Regions from separate parts of the Homo sapiens genome. Here region 1 is linked to region 2. The links come from fine-mapping of genetic effects on gene expression. A gene starts in region 2. The other region holds a variant in brackets. All regions are shown on one strand. Distances are from middle to middle. Region 1 overlaps BCKDHA (branched chain keto acid dehydrogenase E1 subunit alpha). Region 2 holds the start of DMAC2 (distal membrane arm assembly component 2).

Region 1 (2,904 bases), 31 kb before region 2:
TCTCTCTTACCAAGTTTTGAGTATGTAATACGTCCCAGATCGGTGCTGAACCCCTGGTGTGAGTTAACTTAGCAACTTTTCACGTGGTGTTCTGCAGCCTTCTTACAGATAAGGAAATTCAGAGAGGTGAAGTGTTTTTGCAGAGAGCCACACAATGAGCTAAGAAATTAGAACCCAGGGCAGTTGAACTCCAGAGCCAGGGAACTTAACAGCCCATTCATGCATTCACTCAGGAATTCCCTCTTGAGTGCCTGCTGTGAAGGCAACCTGGACGCTGTCTCTGCCTTCCTGGGATTGTGGTGTGTGTGGGAGACAGACACGAAACAAAGCAATCTTCTAGGTCAGTGTCTGGCTATGCTGGGTACTCAGAAGGGGGAAGCACTGTGCTGCAAGAGGCCGGCTGTTTCCTCCTCACAAGGGGAGGCCTGCAGTGACATTGCCAGGCCTGAATCTGCCCTGCCATTGGGAGTGTAATTTCCTCACGACTACAAATGCAAATAAATACACACACTGAACATGCTACCCCGCTAGAACTGTGGACAGCTTGTTCACTGCAGTTAAAGGAAGACGGAGGGACACATTTGAGCACGCATGTGTGAGATCCAGCTTGTGGCAAACCCTGCCATTCTTTAACATCTGTGGGAAGTGAAGCCACCATTACTGACCTCGGAGGAATCCCGGGAGTAGTGGGAAGAAAAGTTGCAGATGTTTGAAAATCAGGCTGCAGGGGCAGTTGGGGTGAGGAGCATGGATGTCTAGGAGCCTGAATCTCAGCGTTGGAAGCCCAGTTCTGATGTAATTTTTTTTTTTTTTTTTTTTTTTGAGACAGGGTCTCACTTTGTCCCCCAGGCTGGAGTGCAGTGGCACAGTCTCAGCTCACTACAGCCTCATCCTTCCAGGTTCAAGCAGTCCTCCTGCCTCAGCCTCCCAAGTAGCTGGGACCACAGGCATGTGTCACCATGCCTTTCTAATGTTTGTATTTTTTTGTGGAGACAGGGTTTCTCACTGTTGCCCAGGCTGGTCTCAAACTCCTGAGCTCATGTGATCCTCCTGCCTTGGCCTTCCAAAGTGCTAGGATTACAGGCGTAAGCCACTGCCCAGCATCCCCACCTTTTTTTTTTTTTTTTTAAATTTGTGGTTTGGTGCAGGTTATTTTACCTCCCCAGGCCTCGGTTTCCTCATCTACTCAAGGGCAATGGCAGATAATCAACCTCACAAATTCCCCGAGGAGTTAGTAGGCTTGTGCCTGCCAGGCTCAGCTGGCTTACAGCAGGTGCTTCATAAGGGGGAGCTATTGCAACGCCTCGGCTGGTTCTAGGCTGCCTAGCTCCAGAGCTAAGAGTCCCAGTGGGTTCATATCCCTTTGAGCATTTATAGGCTTCTCACAGGTCTCCTGGGCTTTCTCAGCCATTCCTCATC[T/C]GACCTGAGGAGGTGTGATGTCCTTGCAGGACTCCTCCAGCCCCTCTGAGCTTTTTTTTTTGTTTGAGACAGCATGTTGCTCTGTTGCCCAGGCTGGAGTGCAGTGGTGTGATCATGGCTTACTGCAGCCTCCACCTCCTGGGGTCAAGCGATTCTCCCACCTCAGCCTTCCAAGTAGCTGGGACTATAGGTGTATGTTACCATGCTTGAGTAATTTTTAAAATTTTTTGTAGAGATGTGATCTCAGGCTGGTCTTGAACTCCTGGGCTCACCTGGGCTCAAGTAATCCTTGAGCCCAAAGTGTTGGGATTACAGATATGAGCCACCTTGCCAGGCCCTGAGCTCCTTCTGTCTTCCATGAAGGACACACTATTCCTTGCCTTTTGTCTTTTTTTGTGTGTGTGGCAGGGTCTCTGTTGCCCAGGCTGGGATGTGTTGGTGCAATCTGGGCTTATTGCAACCTCCGCTTCCCGGATTCAAGTGATTCTCCTGCCTCAGCCTCTTGAGTAGCTGGGATTACAGGTGTGCGCAACCACGCCCAGCTAATTTTTGTATTTTTGGTAGACATGGGGTTTCACCATGTTGGCCAGGCTGGTCTCAGCCTCCCGAAGTGTTGGGATTACAGGCATAAGCCACTGTGCCTGGCCACTTTTTGTCTTTTGCATGTTCTATACACCTTGCCGAGAATGTGCTTTCCCTGCCTCCTGGTTATCCCTCAGGTTTCAGCTCTAACATCACTTCCCCAGGGAAGCCTTACCCTCGCTTTCTTCTGCTATAGGATAATATGAACCACCATCATTGTTACTTGTTTAGTGTCTGCCCTCCCTGCTAGGCAGCAAGGACAGATATCTTGCCTGTCTTAGGTCCCCAGAACCCAGCACAGGGCTTGGAACATGTCAGGTGCTCAAATATTTGTTGAATGAGTCAGTCTGGGCTCGCAGAGGGAGCTGGGACCAGAGTAGAGTGGACACTGAAGCGTATGTAGCAGTTTGCCAGGCGATAGGGAAAGAGACCTTCTTGTAAAGCAAGCAGAGATGAGAGGGAGAAATGAGAATTGCTAAGATTGTTTTGAGCATTTGTTAGGTGGCTTACAGATGCTTTGCTGAACATTTTATTCATGTGATCTTGTTTAAGCCTCTCATTTCCATGAGGGGTTCTCCATTTTTATAGACAAGGAAGGGGACACGTGGAGAGGGGAAGTTACTTTGCCATATCACCCTCTAAGGGATTTTTTTTTTTTTTTTTTTTTTTGAGATGGAGTCTCACTGTCACCAGGCTAGAGTGCTATGGCGCAATCTCGGCTCACTGCAACCCCCACCTCCCGGGTTCAAGTGATTCTCTTGCCTCAGCCTCCTGAGTAGCTGGGACTACAGGCATGTGCCACCACATCCGGCTAATTTTTCTATTTTTAGTGGGTACAGGGTTTCGCCATGTTGGCCACATTGATCTCGAACTCCTGACCTCAAGTGAGATTCGCCTGCCTCT
Region 2 (2,904 bases):
AGTGAACCCTAAATTTTCTCGACTAGCCATATATTGTTGATTTTCCTAAATTCTTCCTCTAACTTTCCCCCAAACCCTTATCACTCAAAACCTGCATTATTTGACCTCTTAATTTTCCACAGATTTGCCCCTTAATTACCCAATTCTTCTGCTGGGGTCTTCCCAAATGACTTCTTTCTTTCCCCAGAATATAATCTTAAAAACTTATCTCCAAACCTCAAGGAGAGGGTGCTCTGAGCAATCCCTAAAACCAACCAAGCTTGTCCAACCCGCCGCCTGCATGCAGCCCAACACAAACATGCAAACTTTCTTAAAACATTAGGAGGATATTTTTGTGATTTTTTTTTTTTTTTTTTTGGCTCATCAGTTATGGTTAGTGTATTTTATGTGTGGCCCAAGACAATTCTTCTTCTTCGAACAGCGTGGCCCAGGGAAGCCAAAAGATTGGACACCCCTGAACCGAGAAGGGTATAAAAAGCATGAGCTTTGAAGAGGAGAGTAAGAAAGTCGAGGGGTGTGGCCAATGGGAAGAAGCCCCCAAACTCTTCAATTTTGCTTTCAAGGTCTCCTCTTAATCTACCCCAATTTCTCTTTGCTTTAACCAAATTCTTTTTTTTTTTCAAATTATCTCGATAATTTTACCCAAACCCTTATTTTCCTCAAAAGTTTAAAGCTGCCAACCTCTTTAATTTTCCCTAAATTCATTCCTTGATTTTAAATCCTCTGAAAGAATATCTCAAATTCTCCTCTTAATTTCACCCAGATCATGCCCTTAGAACCTCCAAATTGACCTCTTGGTTCCCCCACCCATCATGCTTTTGAGTTTTCTGTAAAAATTCGTCAATCTCCCACTAACTTTCCTTACATTCATCCTTCGGTCTTCTAAGACCAAATCCCACATCCTCGAACAATCCCTTCCAAGCTCTCTTATCCTACAGGCCCCACCCTTGCCTGTCCATTAGCTCCTTGTGTCATCCCTCCCTCTGATTGGTTAGTCGCGTCGCTCTTCGGCAGCCACTCCCTCATCCCCATTGGATACTCTCAGCCAAGTCCCTGCCTCCTCTCGCTCGCTAAAGCGTCTCCTCCGCCTGCGACCCTCACAGATCCTTCCTGGCCCCCACTAGCCACAGGTTTGCACTCCCAGTACGGGGCTTGCCAGGCTTAGCCTGCTGCCTCACGGCTTTCTGCTCTCGTGGCCGCCAACAGAGGCCCTGAATGCGGAGGCTGTAGAGCGGACTTCAAATTTGGGGCTCTAGGAACTCCGGTCACTTACCGCCCAGGGAGCCGCCATCTTGCTAAGGTTTCGTAACCGGAAGGGGCCGGTCTTATCCCACGCTCCTGGTTCAGCGCGAACTTATTCTCCTGTGGCCACGCCCCGCGTTTTCTAACCGTCCTCTTAAAGGTGCACGCACTTTTTACTCTTAAAGGGTTTAGGGATTGCTCACAGCGCCCTCTCCCTGAGCTTCAAAACGAGACACAGGTCGGGCTCACGCACCTGTGAACCCAGCACTTTGTGGAGGCCGAGGCGAAAGCATCGCTTGAAGCCAGGAGTTCGAGACCAGCCTGGGCAACATAGGGGAGCCTTTATCTCCACAAAGAAATAGGGCAACCTTATATCCACAAAAAATAAAATGTTAGCCGGGCGTGGTGGTGCACGCCTGTGGTCCCAGCTACTCACGAGGCTGAGGCGGGGGGATCACTTGAGCCGGGGAGGTCGAAGTTGCAGTGAGCTGTGATTGCGCCACTGCACTCCAGCCTGGGTGACAGAGCGAGACGCTGTCTCTTAAAACAAAAAATTGAAAAACAAAACAAACCCCAGGACTCCACAATCTTTCCCTAGGAGAAGATGGGGTGTTCTTCCCGGCAGAGTACCTTTCTTTCCTGACTGCAATTGCAGTCTCCCCAAGCTTTCTTATTCTTCCAGCTTCCACTCACTACCTCCTAAAAACAGGGAATGAGGGGGCTGAAAAGCTGACCACGTCATTTTTAAAAATTAGGGTCAGGTAAGAGAGTGGGTGAAGAGGTTAGATGTCAAGGTTAGAGACTGAGGTGAGATCTCAAGACCAGTTTGGAGTTGAAAGCTAGATCGCAGCATGAAGAGCCATTGTGAAGTCTTGTGGATAGAATTATTCATTCATTAGTTCCAAGAATATTTACTGAGCACCTACCACGTGATGGCAGGCACTGTTCTAGATGCCGAGGTTACCATGGTGAGCAGGACAGACCCAGTCCCTCTCTCAGGAAGTCAACATTCTGGGCTGGGAGAGGATGGATGTGGGAGAGGATGAATAAGAAACAAAGGAATCAGCAAGGCAATTTTGATGAGAAGCAGATAAAAAAAAGTGACTGGGTGTAGGGCCATCAGCAAAGGCCTCTCTGAAGAGGTGACATTGAAGTAGAAGTGAATGATAAGGAAAGAGCCATTCAAAGATCTAGGGGAAAAGCGCTGCAGGGAGAGGTAGCCTCTAGAGCAGAGAGGCCTTGAGGTGGGAACCAGCTTGCAGACAGAGATAGGAGACTGGGTTGAGAGGTGGGCAGGGGCTGACGGTGCAGGCCTGGTAGGGTTTTATTCTATTCACAGTGGGAAGAAGGGAGTGTCAAAATCGGATTTACATTTTGTAAAGATTATTTCTGCCAGGTGGAGAATGTACCTTAGAGCAGCGGTCCCTAACCGTTTTGTTACCAGGGACTGGTTTCGTGGAGGACAATTTTTCCATAGACTGGGGGTCGGGGGTGGGGTGGGGATGGTTTTGGGATGAAACTGTTCCACCTGAGATCATCAGGCATTAGATTCTCATAAGGAGCAGGCAACCTAGATCCCCCGCACGCACAGTTCACAATAGGGTTTGCCTCCTATGAGAATCTAATGCCACTGCTGATGTGACAGGAGGCGGAGCTCAGGCG

Evidence for each region. PIP is the estimated chance that this variant, and not a neighbour inherited with it, causes the effect. A credible set is the group of variants that fine-mapping cannot tell apart.
Region 1: its variant is the best candidate, but not a certain one, in a credible set for the expression of DMAC2 in putamen (GTEx, PIP 0.52).

The regions. Positions count from the first base shown.
Region 1 is chr19:41,407,152-41,410,055 of GRCh38, forward strand. The region is part of intron 1 of BCKDHA (branched chain keto acid dehydrogenase E1 subunit alpha); the gene reads left to right. Among named protein-coding and RNA genes, the nearest start is that of BCKDHA, 11 kb to the left of the region's middle. RefSeq lists enhancers at 1-374, 375-1,330, 2,640-2,689. The variant T/C (reference allele first, on the strand shown) is at 1,420.
Region 2 is chr19:41,438,609-41,441,512 of GRCh38, forward strand. DMAC2 (distal membrane arm assembly component 2) reads right to left here and starts at 1,304. Exons shown (of 6, transcript NM_018035.3): 1 at 1,274-1,304. The coding sequence starts at 1,291. RefSeq lists an enhancer at 1,039-1,208.